2 separate regions of the Homo sapiens genome follow, and region 2 is linked to region 1. Evidence: fine-mapped expression QTL. A gene starts in region 1. The other region holds a variant in brackets. All regions are shown on one strand. Distances are from middle to middle.

Region 1 (8,337 bases):
GATCGGTAGGGTCATGCTTTCTCTGAAACCTATATGGGAGAATCTTTCCTTGCCTCTCTTAGCTTTTGGTGTTATCAACAATCCTTAGCATTCCTTGGCTTGCAACTGCAGTACTTCAATCTCTGTTTCCATCATCGCATGGGGTTCTCCTCCAATGTGTATGTCTTCATATCTTCTCCTCTCTTAAGGACACCAGTCATAATGGATGAAGCGCCCACCTTCCTTCAGTGTGGCCTCATCTTAACTAATTACATCTGCAACAATCCTATATGACTAAATAAGGTCCCATTCTAAGGGTTAGGACTTCAACATATCTTTTTAGGTGACACAATTCAACATAATGAATAACAAATACCAATTCTCCAAAACAGGCATACCACTTCAGTATAATACTAAACAAAATCCCAATGGATTCTAAAATTTGTAAGGAAAGTTTTGTCACAACTGACAAGCTGATTCAAAAATTTACATGAAGATGCAAAGGACCAAGGAAAGCCAAGATAATCTTGAAGGACATAATAGGAGGGAGGACTTTTTCTATCATATACTAAGATTTATTATAAAGCTATTACAGAAATTAAGACAGTATGGTATTTCCACAAGGAGAAACAAAAGGAACAGCCTTCATAGTCCTGAAATAAACCCACACATATATAGACAACTGATACATGACAAAGGTGTCAATGCAGAACAGTGGGGAAAAGGACAGTCTTTTTAAAAAATAGTGCTTAATCCATGCAAAATTCACATGGAAAGGTTGAAATCTGACTTACCTTACACTATACACATAACCCAACCACAGATGGATTATAAAACTAAATGTGAAAGACTAATAACACTTCTAGAAATTTTCTTCATTTGGTAGGAAAATATTTCTTAAGAGAATACAATAAGCACTAAGCACAAAGGGTTTTTTTGTTGTTGTTGTTTGTTTGTTTTTTGGATGGAGTCTTGCTCTGTCACCCAGGCTGGAGTGCAGTGGCATGACCTCAGCTCATTGCAACCTTCGCTTCCTGGTTCACGTGATTCTCCTGCTTCAGCCTCCCGAGCAGCTGGGACTATAAGTGCACACCACCATACCCGGCTAATTTTTTTTTTTTTTCCTGAGGCAGAGTCTTGCTCTGCCACCCAGGCTGCAGTGCAGTGGTGCGATCTTGGCTCACTGCAACCCCTGCCTCTGGGGTTCAAGTGATTCCCCTGCCTCAGCCTCCCTAGTAGCTAGGATTACAGGTGCCCACCATGCCCAGCTAATTTTTGTATTTTTAGTAGAGACAGGGTTTCCTCATGTTGGCCAGGCTGGTCTCAAACCCCTGGCCTCAAGAGTTCCGCCCGCCTCAGCCTCCCAAAGTGCTGCTATTATAGGCATGAGCCACTGTACCCGGCCACAAAGGTCTTTTAAGTTCATCAAAAGACACCAATAACAGAGTGAAAAGGCAAGCTACCGAGTGGGAGAAGATATTTGCAATATATACAGTAGTCCCTCCCTTATCCATGAGGATATGTTCGAAGATGTTCCACAGATGCCTGAAACCTCCAGTAGTATCAAACCCTATATATGCTATGTTTTTTCCTATACATACATACCTATGATAAAGTTTAATTTATAAATCAGGCACAGAAAGAGACTAACAACTAACAATAGAACAATTATAACAATAGACTTTAATGAAAGTTGTTTAAAACTTATGAATTATTTGTTACTGGAATTTTCCATTTAATATTTTCAGACCGTGGTTGAGTGTGGGTAACTACGACTTCAGAAAGCAAAACCGTGGATGAGGGGGGCTAGTGTATATTCAAAAAAGACTTATCTTAGTGTATTCCTGATTGCCAAAAGAAAATGCCACAGACTGTGTAATTTATAAATAGTAGAAATTTATTTCTCACAGTTCTGGAGGTTGGCAAGTCCAAGATCAAGGCACTGGCAGATTTGTTGTCTTGGAATTACTCTCTAATTCCAAGATGAAACTTTGTTGTTGTCCTCTTGCTGGGAGGAACATTGTTATCATACAGTGAGGGGTTAAAAGGGCAAAAGGAATGAATCTTTGTGAAGGGCATGAATGCCCTCTTTTGTAAGGGCATGAATCCCATTCATGAGGATGGAGTCCTCATAGCCTAACCCCTCCCAAAGGCTCCACTTCTTATACCATCGCCTTAATGTTTAAGTTCCAATATATGAATTTTGAAGGGACACATACATTCAAACCATAGCAGGATTCATATCTAAAATATATGCCCATAAGAAAATGTCAATCCAATACAAAAATGAGCAAGAGACTTGAACAGGCACTTATGGGGGATATCCAGATACCCAAGGAACAAGAAAATGGGCTCATCCTCATTAATAATCTGGGAAATGCAAATTAAAACCACAGTGAGATACCACTATGCCCCCATCAGAATGGTTATAATTAAAAAGATATGCAGCAGTAATTATTGGCAAGGATGTTGGGAAACTGAAACTCTCATACATGGCTGAAGGGAGTATAAACTGAAACCACCATTTTCTAAAATTGCCTGAGATTATCTACCTAAATTTTACATATACATAACAAGCAATTTCACTTTTAGGTATGAACCCAACAGAAATGTGTGCATATGTATCACTGTTAAATAAAACTTGTAGGCCATTGTTTCGGGCTAAGCTCCTGCAGTAGGTCTCAATGAACCAGACTAAAAATCAAAATGGAGTCACTCACACTGAGGTTCCATGTCATCAAATGGAAACTACGTTGTTATTTGAAGTTCTGAAAAGTCAGGAAAAAGAGATAATAAGAGTCTAATTTCCCCTGAGTGCCAGTTTCAATTAGCATAATAATGAAATTTCTTCTGCTTTAATCGTTACCAAAAAAAGATAAACTGAAGTTACCTGATGTTAACCAATCAGTTATTTCTCTATTGTTTTGTTTCTTGGTTCTGCTTTACAAGGAAATTAACTTATTTATTTATTTTTTGGAAAGTTACTTTGAAATGAACCAATCTGTTTTTTGTTCTTTACTTCTGCTTTCTCCAGCCCTTCTCTGTCTATAAAACCTACCTCTTCTGCTCAGCTCATTGGAACACTTGTTCTATTTTATGGAATGAAGTGCTGCCAGATTCTAGAATCACAAATAAAGCTAATTGAGATATTTAAATTAAATTTGTTGTAATTTTGTCTTTTAACATCACCAATGACAAGAATGTTCACAGAAGCATTATTCCTAATAGCCACAAATTGGAAACAACTCAAATGTCCATCAGTAGTAGATGATTAAAATTGTATCATATTCATAAAATAGAATACTATACAGCAGTCAAAATGAATGAACAGTCACAAATCATACACGTATCTGTGAAACAATGTTGAATTAAAAAAACCAAATCTCAATTTTGAGCAAGTTTTTTCATTTATATCTCAAGAGATTAAAAAATTATACCTCTTAGGGTTAAATGGTGAGGATTAAGTGGGATGGTGCATGTGAAGTGCTCAGCAAGCCAAGTATTATTTAATATCATGCTCTCTCAGTAGGCCACCTTTCAGGAAATGGGCACTAAAGGATGCTACAGATTAGCTAGGTGTGGTGGCACGTGCCTGTAAGCCCAGCTACTCGGGAGGCTGAGGCAGGAGAATCGCTTCAACCCAGGAGGCGGAGGTTGCAGTTAGCCGAGATTGTGCCACTGCACCCCAGCCTGGGCAACACAGTGATACTCTGTCTCCAAAAAAAAAAAAAAAAAAAAAAAAAAAAAAAAAAAAAAAAAAGAATGCTATAGAGCACTTACAGCGCCTTCTAACGCCATCTCCACCTTTTCACTATTGAGCCTCGGTCTCTTTAAGAAGTGAACCATAATTGAGGAAAGAGGAATGCTGGGAAGTTCTACTCAGCTCAGGTCCGGAGCCTGACGGGAAAAGAGGGCGGAGACCAAGGCTGCGCAGGCGTGGTTGGCCGGTCGTTGCGTTGGGATGGATCAGGCGGAATTCCAGAAGAGAAAATAATCCCTGTCTAGATGCAGAGGACTTGGTTCCTATTCCAGTGCTCCTCCGGTAGCAGGGAGGCGACAGAAGGTGGGTGCGGCCGCAGTGGTAGTGGGCGGGACGGCGGGGCGGAGGCCACACCACGTGACGAGGCGTTGCGGCGGGGGCGGTGCCAGGTGGGCTACGCGGCTGGGGCGGCTGCGGATATCGCCTTAGGGACGCGTTGACATTCACTGGCTAGTCCACCGCTCTCAGTCGGAGACCACATTGCCTCGTTAGTCCTCAATGATGGGAGTGGGAATTCTTGGTGGGAAGGAGAATTTCGGAAAGCGTGCGGTTCTCAGAGGAGGGATGAGCGCCCGTAGATATTTTGTGGCGAGTGCGCAAAAGTTCTCATTTCTTCTTTGGAACAGGCTTTTCAACCAGTTGTCCGTTTCCATCCCGGACTATTCGGATAAAGACAACTTTGAAGAGCTTTTTGTTTTAGGTTTAATTCGTCCCGTTTAGTTCTTTGACTTTTAGGGGAAGGGAATTTACTGAATGGCCAATTGAGTTTCTTTTCTACAGGAAGGCGATTGTGAAGCGGGGCTCTGAGGGGCTTGATGCCCCCCACCCCTCACACGGAGACCTTGAAAGAGGCAGGTGACTCACTTTCAGTAAGGGCGTTCCTGTTGTTCGCCTGCGATGGATGGCATCTTGAGCTCACATCTAGCGTTAGGCCGAGAAATGGGGCCCTTAGGGAGGCTTCCAGTGAAGGTTGAGTTATAGGTCAGGGCCGGGAGGTTGTTGTGCCCCTCTTTGAGAAATAAAAGCCGACGTGGGCCTCTAAGTACTGATTCTTATGGGGTCAGAAACTATTTCTTGAGTCCGTTCTTCTCAGAGTTTATTACTTCCTCCCACGTCTTGGTCTGCTGGTCTAATTCCCTTCAATAACCTTCAACATAGGAAAAAACCAGAGTGTGTTGTGTGTCTTTAAAGATATTAGAGAAGTGGGAGCTGTTGCCCCAAAACTGTTTTCTTATGTAGCTACTGAAGGAACAGAAAGCAGGAAGAAAGAAAAAAGTTAGTTGTGGCCCCAGAAGAGTTGTTTTTCAAATGCCGAGCCGTGAAGCCTCATGCACTCAACACAAAGTTTTTCTTTCATATAGATAAGCCTGAAGAAAAAAGAATAAGCCTGAGTATGTATTTTAGGTGTCCAACTATCCATTACCAAGAAGAAATCTATTCGTTTGAGCCTGAGACACTCTTTGAGGTAAAAAATTAGAATGAAAGAACCTTTGGATGGTGAATGTGGCAAAGCAGTGGTACCACAGCAGGAGCTTCTGGACAAAATTAAAGAAGAACCAGACAATGCTCAAGTAAGCATTTCATCTTCATTTAAAAATTTAAAAAAATTCCTTCTTTTCCATCTGGTCAACTGAAAAATTTTAGTTAAACGGCTTCTGGTTTGTAAGTTTAAAATAACCCAAACTGAGACAGGCTCTCGCTGTCGCTGAGGGTGTAGTGCAGTGGTGCGATCTCCTTAGCTCACTGCAGCCTCCACCTCCCAGGCTCAAGTGATCTTCCCACCTCAGCCTCCTGTGTAGCTGGGACCACAGGGCACACACCAACATGCTCAACTATTTTTTTGTATTTTTGGTAGAGACGGGGTTTGGCCATGTTTCCCAGGCTGGTCTCAAACTCCTGAGCTCAAGCAATCCACCCACCTTGGCCTCCCAAAGTTCTGGGATTACAGGCATGAGCCACCATTCCTGGCTGGTTTTTTGCTCTTTGAATGAAAGCTATAACTACATGATTTTTTTGTGTGTGGAAGGAAAGTAATATATTTACCATTTTTCCATACTTGTCACTTAAAAAAAATTCTCTTGTATCTGGTAGTACTTTCCTTTATTCTGTTAAGAATTTGTGGTCTGTGCTAGTCTCTGGGGATCCAGGATTGAGCAAAGTCAGCTTAGTCCCTTCCCTTGTAGAGCTTATATGTTAGTAGAGGAGGCAGAGATTACAAAAGTATTGGTCAAGTAATATATATAATTACAAACTATGACAAGTACTCTGGAAGAAAAGCCTAAAATGGGGAATCTGACCTAGTTTTGGTTGTGGTCTGCCTGGGGATGGCTAGGGAAGGCCTCTCTAAGGGAAGGATGTGTAAGCTGAATTATGAAGAATGAATTGATTAGGCAAAGGGTATGGAGAAGAGTATTACAGACAGAGGGAACTGTGAATAGGAAAGCCCTGAGTTGGAAAGATGCATGGTTCTTTTTAAGACCTGCAGGAACAGTGAGCCTGGAACAGAAAAGGTATGAAAATGGTGATGATGATAATGATTAAAACAACAACAATAAAAATAGCTGGCATTAGTATATCAGTATGTAGTATATATTATATCATAATCATATGTGACATTATTAACTTAATATTTATATATGCTTAAGAGTGTGTCAGGCACCATTCTTACCACCATATTATTATCCCCATTTTACAGATGAGGAAACCAAAGCTCAAAAAAGCCAAATAGTTTACCACAGATCACAGTTAGTAGTAAATGACAAAGACTGGATTCAAATCCAGGTGGTCAGACTCCAGAACTTGTGCTATTCTGCTTCTCTATGATAAGGCTGTATATATAGTTTAAGGCTGGATTATGTAGGACGTAGCAGACCTTGTTATAAATTTTGGTTTTTATCCTAAGAGCAGTAGATAGCCATTATAGGGTTTTTTGTTTTTGTTTTGAGATGGAGTTTTGCTGCAATGTTGTAATCTTGGTGGCTCACTGCAACTTTCACATCCCGGGTTCAAGTGATTCTCCTGCCTCAGCCTCCCCAGTAGCTGGGATTATAGGCGCCTGCCACCACGCCTGGCTAATTTTTTGTATTTTTAGTAGAGACGGGGTTTCACCATGTTGGCTAGGCTGGTTTCAAACTCCTGACCTCAGGTGATCCACCCACCTCAGCCTCCCAAAGTGCTAGGATTACAGGCGTGAGCCACCACACCTGGCCAATTGTAGGGTTTTAAGTGAGAAAGTAAGATGAAACAGATTTGTGTTTGGAAAGATCATTCTGGCTACCCCATAGGGACCCAGAATGGAGAGCACGGAAATCAATGTGGAGGCTGGGCACAGTGGCTCACGTCTGTAATCCTAGCACTTTGGGAGGCCAAGGCAGGCAGATCACGAGGTCAGGAGATCGAGACCATCCTGGCTAACACGGTGAAACCCCGTCTCTACAAAAAATACAAAAAATTAGCTGGGCGTGGTGGTGGGCGCCTGTAGTCCCAGCTACTTGGGAGGCTGAGGCAGGAGAATGGCGTGAACCCAGGAGGCGGAGCTTGCAGTGAGCCAAGATTGCGCCACTGCACTCTAGCCTGGGTGACAGAGTGAGACTCCGTCTCAAAAAAAAATAAAATAAAATCAATGGGAGAGATGAGTTAGTTGTTTTGGCAAGGAATTTTTCTTCTGGGACAGTTCTTTCGCTTTACACTCAAAGTTATTGACTTTATTGTATCAGCAAAGCAATTATATTTTAAAATAATAAAAAACAATTTTATTTTTCACACCATCTCACAGGCAGTATCATTCCTTTTTTTTTTTTGAGATGGAGTCTTGCTCTGTCACTCCCAGGCTGGAGTGCAGTGGCGCGATCTTGGCTCACTGCAACCTCCGCCTCCCAGGTTCAAGCGATTCTCCTGCCTCAGCCTCCTGAGTAGCTGGGATTACAGGTGTGCGCCACCACGCCTGGCTAATTTTTTATATTTTTGTTAGAGACTGGGTTTCGCCATGTTGGCCAGATTGGTCTCAAAACTCCTGACCTCAAGTGCTCTGCCCACCTCGGCTTCTCAAAGTGCTGGGATTATGGTTGTAAGCCACCATGCCCAGCCACAGGCAGTATCATAAGAAGACAGGGATGTCAGGTAGGTTTTGTTTCACTCATGAACTCTATGCCTTGCTAGAGTGCTGGGCTAAGAAGAGTTCTGAGGTAGTGTCTGTTAGATGTGGAGTGGGGGATGGTGGCATCCATGCTACTTGTTTTCCCTCCAGATGGTAAATTCTTACTCTTTCTCTGCCTAAAGTAACCATTTCTTTGCCAGGTTTTGTGGTTTTTAGCTTTTAAATATTTTTTGTATCTGACCCATGATGTTCTTCTATATTTCATTATTTCTCTCTCTCTTTTTTTTGTTTCCTTTTTTTGAGACAGGGTCTCACTTTGTTGCCCATACTGGAGTGCAGTGGTGTGAGTATGGCCACTGCACTCTAAACGATCCTCCCATCTCAGCCTCCCAGGTAGCTGACCACAAACATGCTCCACCACACCCAGCTAGTTTTTGTAGAGACGGGGTCTCCTTATGTTGCCCAGGCTGGTCCTGAACTCCTGACCTCAAGCAATCCTCCT
Region 2 (8,337 bases), 45 kb after region 1:
AACATGGGCGGATCACCTGAGGTCAGGAGTTTGAGACCAGCCTGACCAACATGGTGAAACCCCATCTCTACTAAAAATACAAAATTAGCTGGGCATGGTGGCACAGGACTGTAATCCCAGCCACTCAGGAGGCTGAGGAAGGAGAATCGCTTGAACCTGGGAGGTAGAGGTTGCGGTGAGCTGAGATCGCGCCATTGTGCTCCAACCTGGGCAACAAGAGTGAAACTCCGTCTCTTTTAAAAGAATAAATCTCGAATGTTTTCTAACAATCGAAATTACTTTTTCATTTGACATTGCATTGGAAACATTATTCCACAACAATATAAATTTAAATATACATTGAGATTATTTTTTTCCAATTTTTATTTTATTATGTTTATTTTATTTTATTCGGGGGTACATGTGCAGATTTGTTACCTGGGTATGAGATTCTTAACATAGATTTCAGTGTATATAATATAACCAACTCCGTTAAGATTGGAAATTTAGATATTTGTATTATAAGCAATGTTGGGTTAAGCTATGTTAATGGATCTTTGTCCACTTGCCTAATTATGTCCTTAGGATAAATCCTAATCAGTGGAAGTGTTGATTCAAAGACTATCATCTTTTTTTTTGTTTGTTTTTGTTTTTGAGACAGAGTCTATCTCTGTCACCCAGGCTAGAGTGTAGTGGCGCGATCTCGGCTCACTGCAACCTCCACCTGCCAGGTTCAAGCGATTCTCCTACCTCAGCCTCCTGAGTAGCTGGGATTACAGGCACCTGCCACCATGCCCAGCTAATTTTCTTTTGTATTTTTAGTAGAGACGGGATTTCACAGTGTTGGCAACGCTGGTCTCAAACTCGTGACCTCATGATGTGCCCGCCTCAGCCTCCCAAAGTGCTGGGATTACAAGCGTGAGCCACCGCGCCGGCCTATCATCTATTCTTAAGTATTTTGATACCTGTTGCCTAAATTGCCCTCCTGAAAAGTTACATCAATGTATGCTCCAACCAGCAGTGTTCAGGAGGATCCATTTCTCTACAACCTCACTGACACTGAGTATCAAAATTCAGAAAGGTTGAATATACAGTACAGTCAATACTAGTATACTCTTCATCCAGATTAATGAAATGTTAACTTTTTGCAATATTTATTTTCTTTTTTTTTCTGGATTGTTTGAAAGTAAAACATTATTTTTCTGTCTCTTTTTCTTCCTTTTCTTTCTTTTTTTTGAGATGGAGTTTCACTCTTGTCTCCCAGGCCGGAGTGCAATGACATGATCTCGGCACATTGCAACCTCCGCCTCCCGGGTTCAAGCGATTCTCCTGCCTCAGCCTCTCAAGTAGCTGAGATTATAGGCATGTACCACCATGCCTGGCTAATTTTGTGTTTTTAGTAGAGACGGGGTTTCACCACGTTGGCCTGGCTGGTCTCGAACTCCTGACCTCAGGTGATCTGCCCGCCTTGGCCTCCCAAAGTGCTGGGATTACAGGTGTGAGCCCCATGCCTGGCCTTTTTTTTCTTTTTCTTTAAAAAAATTTTTTGACACCAGTGTCACTCACCAATAAAAAATTTATTCTTTTTGTTTTTTTTTGAGACGTAGTCTCAAGAGTGCAGTGGTGTGATCATGGCTCTCTGCAGGCTCAACCTCCTGGGCTCAGGCAATCCTCTTGCTTTAGCTACCCAAGTAGCTGGGACTATAGGTGTGTGCCATTGCATCCAGCCAATTTTTTTTCTTCTTCTTTTTTTTTTTTTAATGTAGAGATGGAGTTTCGCCATGTTGCCCGGGCTGGTCTCTAACTCCAGGGCTCAAGTGACCCACCCACCTTGGTGTCCCAAAGCACTGGGATTATAGGTGTGAGCCACCCTGCTCAGCCAAAAAGTTTATTGTTAATTTGATGTGTATCATGGTCTTCAGCCCTAATTTCAATAACCTATTGGGTGCTTGGGATTACTTGTACATGTACCACATCCTACAGTTTTATTATACCTAGTGATCAAGCTTTGGGCAAAGGAGAAATTCAGTTTTCAGTAGCATCATTGGAAGTATTATGACTTGTGCTTAAACTTTTACCAGTGCATTCTTTTGATAAATAGAAATAGTAACAAAATATGAATTTTAAATATGTGGGGAGATACATAAAGAACATTGCTTATTTGTTCTTGAAAATAACAGTGATTCAAATATTTCATTCAGATTTACCTATGCCTAATGAAAAAAATGATGCAGAACTTGATTCTCCACCTTCAAAGAAAAAAAGATTAGGTTTTTTCCAGACTTATGATACAGAATATTTAAAAGTTGGTTTTATTATCTGTCCTGGATCAAAAGAAAGTTCACCAAGGCCACAGTGTGTCATTTGTGGAGAGATCTTATCCAGTGAAAACATGAAGCCAGCAAATCTTTCTCATCATTTGAAGACAAAACATTCAGAATTAGAAAACAAACCAGTAGATTTTTTTGAACAAAAATCTTTAGAAATGGAATGTCAAAATAGTTCTTTAAAAAAGTGTTTACTAGTTGAAAAGTCACTTGTGAAAGCTTCTTATTTAATTGCTTTCCAAACTGCTGCAAGCAAGAAGCCATTCTCCATTGCTGAAGAATTAATTAAACCATATTTAGTAGAAATGTGTTCAGAAGTTTTGGGTTCAAGTGCTGGAGACAAAATGAAAACTATTCCACTTTCTAATGTTACAATTCAACACAGGATTGATGAACTATCTGCAGACATTGAAGACCAGCTGATTCAAAAGGTCAGAGAGTCAAAGTGGTTTGCCCTTCAGATAGATGAGTCATCAGAAATCTCAAATATCACACTTCTTTTGTGCTATATTCGTTTCATTGATTATGATTGTCGTGATGTAAAAGAAGAATTATTATTTTGCATTGAAATGCCTACTCAAATAACTGGCTTTGAAATATTTGAACTAATAAATAAATATATTGATAGTAAATCTCTGAATTGGAAACATTGTGTTGGTCTCTGTACCGATGGGGCTGCAAGCATGACTGGCAGGTATTCTGGTTTAAAAGCAAAAATTCAAGAAGTTGCCATGAATACAGCGGCATTTACACATTGTT[T/G]TATTCACCGTGAACGTTTAGTGGCAGAAAAGTTGTCTCCATGTTTACATAAAATTCTTTTGCAGTCAGCACAAATTTTAAGTTTTATAAAGAGCAATGCATTAAATTCACGTATGTTAACAATTTTGTGTGAAGAGATGGGATCTGAGCATGTGAGTTTACCGCTTCATGCTGAAGTACGTTGGATATCAAGAGGGAGAATGTTAAAAAGATTATTTGAATTACGACATGAGATTGAAATATTTTTAAGTCAAAAGCATTCAGATTTGGCCAAGTATTTTCATGATGAGGAATGGGTTGGAAAGCTGGCCTACTTATCAGATATATTTTCACTTATAAATGAATTAAATTTAAGTCTCCAAGGAACTTTGACTACTTTCTTCAATTTGTGTAATAAAATTGATGTATTTAAGAGAAAGTTAAAAATGTGGTTGAAGCGCACACAAGAGAATGATTATGACATGTTCCCTTCATTTTCTGAATTCTCAAATTCATCAGGCTTAAATATGACAGACATCACAAGGATTATTTTTGAGCACCTGGAAGGACTTTCTCAAGTGTTCAGTGACTGTTTTCCACCAGAACAAGACTTGCGTTCAGGAAATTTGTGGATAATTCACCCTTTTATGAATCACCAAAATAATAATCTCACCGACTTCGAAGAAGAAAAGCTAACAGAGCTATCTTCAGATTTAGGATTACAAGCACTATTTAAATCAGTGTCTGTAACTCAGTTTTGGATAAATGCAAAGACAAGTTACCCAGAACTCCATGAAAGGGCAATGAAATTTTTATTACCCTTTTCAACTGTTTATTTATGTGATGCTGCCTTTTCAGCTTTGACTGAGTCAAAACAAAAAAATCTGTTGGGTTCTGGCCCTGCCCTAAGACTTGCAGTCACATCTTTAATTCCAAGGATAGAAAAATTAGTGAAGGAGAAAGAGTAGCAATATGCACATTGCTTAACAGTGAAGTCAATAATCCTGTGTTAAGTTTTGTATAAGTATCCTAAAAGATAATTTCCTAATGTGGATTTGTGTTTTCAGTGATTAAATGTTTTAATAATTTTTCCCTTTTTGTTGAGGAATTTAATAATTATGATTGTTATAAATAATTATGTATAATTATAATCTAGGGTAGAAAATTTAGTTATTTCATTAAATTTGGACTAGTGACAAAGACTGCAGGTAATGAGAAGCCCAGTTTATAATGTAACAGCACAACCTGGATGTTGAAACAGCTTGGCCTTTAGAAGCAAGTGGAACATTTCAGTCTTCTAGCCAACCAGCTACTTACCCCTGCAAGGTTGTGAGTAGGTGGAAAAGATAGATCTTTTTTTTGAGATGGAGTTTTGCTCTTGTTGCCCAGGCTGGAGTGCAATGGCGTGATCTTGGCTCACTGGAACCTCTGCCTCCTAGGTTCAAACAATTCTCCTGCCTCAGCCTTCCAAGTAGCTGGGGTTACAGGCATGTGCCACCATGCCCGTCTATTGTATTTTTTTTAGTAGAGACGGGGTTTCACCATATTGGTCAGGCTGGTCTCTATCTCCTGACCTCAAGTGATCCACCTGCCTCGGCCTCCCAAAGTGCTGGGATTACAAGTGTGAGCCAACGTGCCCAGCTGGAAAAAGATAGATCTAAGCAGCTTGGGTAACTATAAATGGAAGCAGCAGGGGGATTTGAGACCCCTGCTTGGGGCCTTTCTGGCCCAATATACCAGGGCTTAGCAAACTTTTTAAATAAAGAGCCAGATAGTAAATATTTTCAGCTTTGCAGGCCATACTGTCACAACTACTCAATTCTGCAGTTGCAGTGCAAAAGCAGCCATAGACAATATGCAGATAAGTGTGGCTGTTTTTAAATAAAACTTATTCATGAACACTGAAATATGAATTTCATATAATTTTCCTATGTCACACAAGCTTCTTTAAAAAATGTTTTTATCATAAAAAATGTAAACAAACATTATTAGCTTGGGGGAAGGGGAGAAGCATGGAAAAAAATCAGACATCTGGCCAAATTTGGCCCATGGTTTGCCCATCCCAGCTTTAGACAGATTTCCAGGTAAGAGCAAATGGGCCAGGAGTGGACTGTAGGGCTTGGTTCAGTGAAAGCCTCTCTATCCATGCAAGTATCTGAATTTTCAAACACCTTTCACATTTCATTGTCAGCCGAGATAAATTAGAGGGAAAAGATATCTCAGGCAAAGAGACTTATTTAATAATTAATGGTTATTGATTTATTACAATTTTATAAATTAATTTACTAATTTACAAATAACTTTCTGAGCTCTTACATGTGCAGGCACTGTGCTAGGCCTGTTACAAACTCTGGAGAACTGAGTTATCCCCATATACAGATGCAGATACTGAGGCCCTTTGGGGTGGGTGACAGCTCAGATCCCACAGCTAGTGTGGCACAGGCAGGAACGAAGCCCGGGGTCTTTTGATGGTAGCTGAACCGCACCCAGACACCCACCCGTGTCTGCCAGCACTCCGTATTGGCTGGGAAACACTCCCTGAATCCAAAGGTGCCTGTTTAGTCAGTTACCAGCCAGTGGTCCTCAAGTGTCCCCACCTGTAAGATGGGGGCGCCCTGCCCCAGTACTGCAGCCTCGCGACCCCCTGGAGGGTGGGGGACGGTAGCTCAGGCGAGAGTCTTCCGGCTGCCCCGGGGAGGGAGGAAATGAGCCGGCGGCAGGGGCGGGTTTTCGGCGGGGCCAACCCACGGTGGGGGGAGCGCGGCCATGGCGCTCCTGCTTTCGGTGCTGCGTGTACTGCTGGGCGGCTTCTTCGCGCTCGTGGGGTTGGCCAAGCTCTCGGAGGAGATCTCGGCTCCAGTTTCGGAGCGGATGGTGAGCGGCGCGGGCGGGCGGCAGGGGATCGGGCCCGCGGCGGCGTGTGCTCCGCCCTGCCGCTCCTCGCCCCCGGCCCGGCAGGCCGCCTTCGGGCTTCCGAGGCTCAGCTGGAGCTGGGGGAAAGCGCCTGGCTTTCGACTGAGGCGCAGGTCCTGCCTGGGGAGTTCCTCGAGTTCTCTGGATCTTCCCTAGACGGAAGGGGACAGAACCTCCCCTTCCTGCAGAATATTGGTGGCCCCAGGCAAATCTAGAGCCTTAGGAGGTCCCTCCCACCCCCCCGGACCCTGGGGGAGGATGATGCGGTGGGAAAATGAGCTCACTTCCCGCTCTCTTCCCTCTTTTCGCCGTTTGCTTCAGTTTTTGGGAGGTTCGTGGGGTTGGGGTGTAGTAATCCTGGCTTTGCAGGGAAGGAAGCCCGCCCTGAAGGGCAAGTATATCTGCTAAAGATTGCACATCTAGTCAGGAAGCAGGACACAAGCTAGACACTCCTAACTCGGAACCCAGAGAGGGAAGCCTCTCTCGGAAGCCTGAGAGGGATGCCCTGAAGTCGTCTTTCAGCCTTCTGTCTAGTTCCAGACTCATGGGAAAGCTTTCATATCCTGTTCACCAATCTCCCCAGTCCCTCAAAAGAGCCAGACTTGTAGACCTCTGCTGGCATCTCTCTCCAAGGCCTGGATAAATCCCCAGAGACAGACAGCTTAGAGCTGCTTCCCAGCAGAGCTGAGGAGGGGAGGTAGAGCTGAGGAGTGGGAACAGGAAAAAGTATCCCCGAAAGTAAGGATGAAGTTGTCATTTGGCTCAGGGGAGGGCCTGCCTTGACAAGAAGAGTCACTTTGAGCCCACCTAACTCTGCCTCACCTCCAAATATTCCCTGTACAGCAGCCTTAAGAGAAACCAGGCCAGACACAAAGAAGGAAACTGTGGAATTCCCCAGGCCTTGGCACTAGGGAGCCAAGCCCAGCCCCCTCCTCCTGGGATTTGGGGCTGGGTTGTAATCTCTTGAGAGGTCTAGTGAGAAGATCAATCTCTGTACCACTTGGAGCATGGAGCCTGTTTCCTGATTCCAAAGCTCAGCGCCACAGGGCAGCCCTCTCCTCTTCAGGCTGACCTCAGCCCTGGACCTGACCTAGAGTAGTAGTTCTTTTCTCTGGGAAGTTGAGGGCACAGGCATAGATATGCCATGGAGCATCTGGGGAGCTCATCCTTGTTGAACAATGAGGCTAACAGGCATTCCTTGCCACCCCTAGAATGCCCTGTTCGTGCAGTTTGCTGAGGTGTTCCCGCTGAAGGTATTTGGCTACCAGCCAGATCCCCTGAACTACCAAATAGCTGTGGGCTTTCTGGAACTGCTGGCTGGGTTGCTGCTGGTCATGGGCCCACCGATGCTGCAAGAGATCAGTAACTTGTTCTTGATTCTGCTCATGATGGGTAAGGGGGCCAACTGGCCTGAGAAAATGGGGTCTTCTGGGGGAGGATTATGGAAAGACCTGGCTGTTCCCCCTTACTGTTGCCACCCTTCTTTTTTCTCTGGGATCAAGAGCACTTTCTGCTCTACCACAGTTTCCATGGTCTTCAAACTAGCACAGGTATTTTTTTTTTTTTTTTTTTTTTTTTTTGAGATGGAGTCTCGCTCTTTCGCCCAGGCTGGACTGCAGTGGCACTATCTCTGCTCACTGCAACCTCCGCCTCCTGGGTTCACACCATTCTCCTGCCTCAGCCTCCCGAGTAGCTGGGACTACAGGCGCCTGCCACAGCGCCCGACTGATTTTTTTGTATTTTTAGTAGAGACAGGGTTTCACCATGTTAGCCAGGATGGTCTCGATCTCCTGAACTCGTGATCTGCCCGCCTTGGCCTCCCAAAGTGCTAGGATTACAGGCTTGAGCCACTATGCCCGGCCTAGCACAGGTACTTTTTAAACTTAATGTGCTAGAACATTATCACATGTTAAGTGTACCTTCTACCTCCTCAATTCTAATGGCTGCATAGTATTGCCTTGTGAAGATATATTGCAAGCTCAGCGCCTCTGCTCCTTCCTCCACACATCCACTCCTAGGATGAGGGGATGGAGGAGCAGCTGCCATTTGATGCATGTGTCTGGCAGATTGGTGTAGAGAGCAGGGAAGCTGGAGAACCTTGAACAGGAAGGCAGAGAATTTCCCTAGGGAGTCCCCCTCAAGTAGCTCTGCCCACAGGAACTGCTGATGTACAAAGACAGCTGTTGCTTCAAAGGCCAGATATCTTCAGGCTCTTCTATATGCCCTGGCATCTGTTACCATTGCTGCCACTGCTACCAGGCTTGCTTCCATCTCTGGAGCTTCTCCCATTTTCAGATCTTTCCCATACCTCCAACCAACAGCCCCTGGGCTAGTCCTTCCCTCCATCTTAATCTTAGTAGATGTAGGATTAAGAAAGGAG

What was found.
Region 2: its variant is fine-mapped to the expression of ZMYM6 in whole blood (TOPMed, PIP above 0.99).

The regions. Positions count from the first base shown.
Region 1 is chr1:35,027,520-35,035,856 of GRCh38, reverse strand. It overlaps ZMYM6 (zinc finger MYM-type containing 6), which reads left to right and starts at 3,912. Exons shown (of 16, transcript NM_007167.4): 1 at 3,912-4,042; 2 at 5,144-5,310. The coding sequence starts at 5,218. It overlaps LOC124903990 (a long non-coding RNA gene), which reads right to left and starts at 3,137. Exons shown (of 2, transcript XR_007065739.1): 1 at 2,700-3,137. RefSeq lists enhancers at 3,723-3,902, 3,559-4,083, 4,084-4,610 and a silencer at 4,073-4,192.
Region 2 is chr1:34,982,779-34,991,115 of GRCh38, reverse strand. It overlaps TMEM35B (transmembrane protein 35B), which reads left to right and starts at 5,769. Exons shown (of 3, transcript NM_001195156.2): 1 at 5,769-5,918; 2 at 7,169-7,349. The coding sequence starts at 5,811. It overlaps ZMYM6 (zinc finger MYM-type containing 6), which reads left to right. Exons shown (of 16, transcript NM_007167.4): 16 at 2,181-4,951. The coding sequence ends at 4,012. RefSeq lists silencers at 5,791-6,080, 6,141-6,210. The variant T/G (reference allele first, on the strand shown) is at 3,066.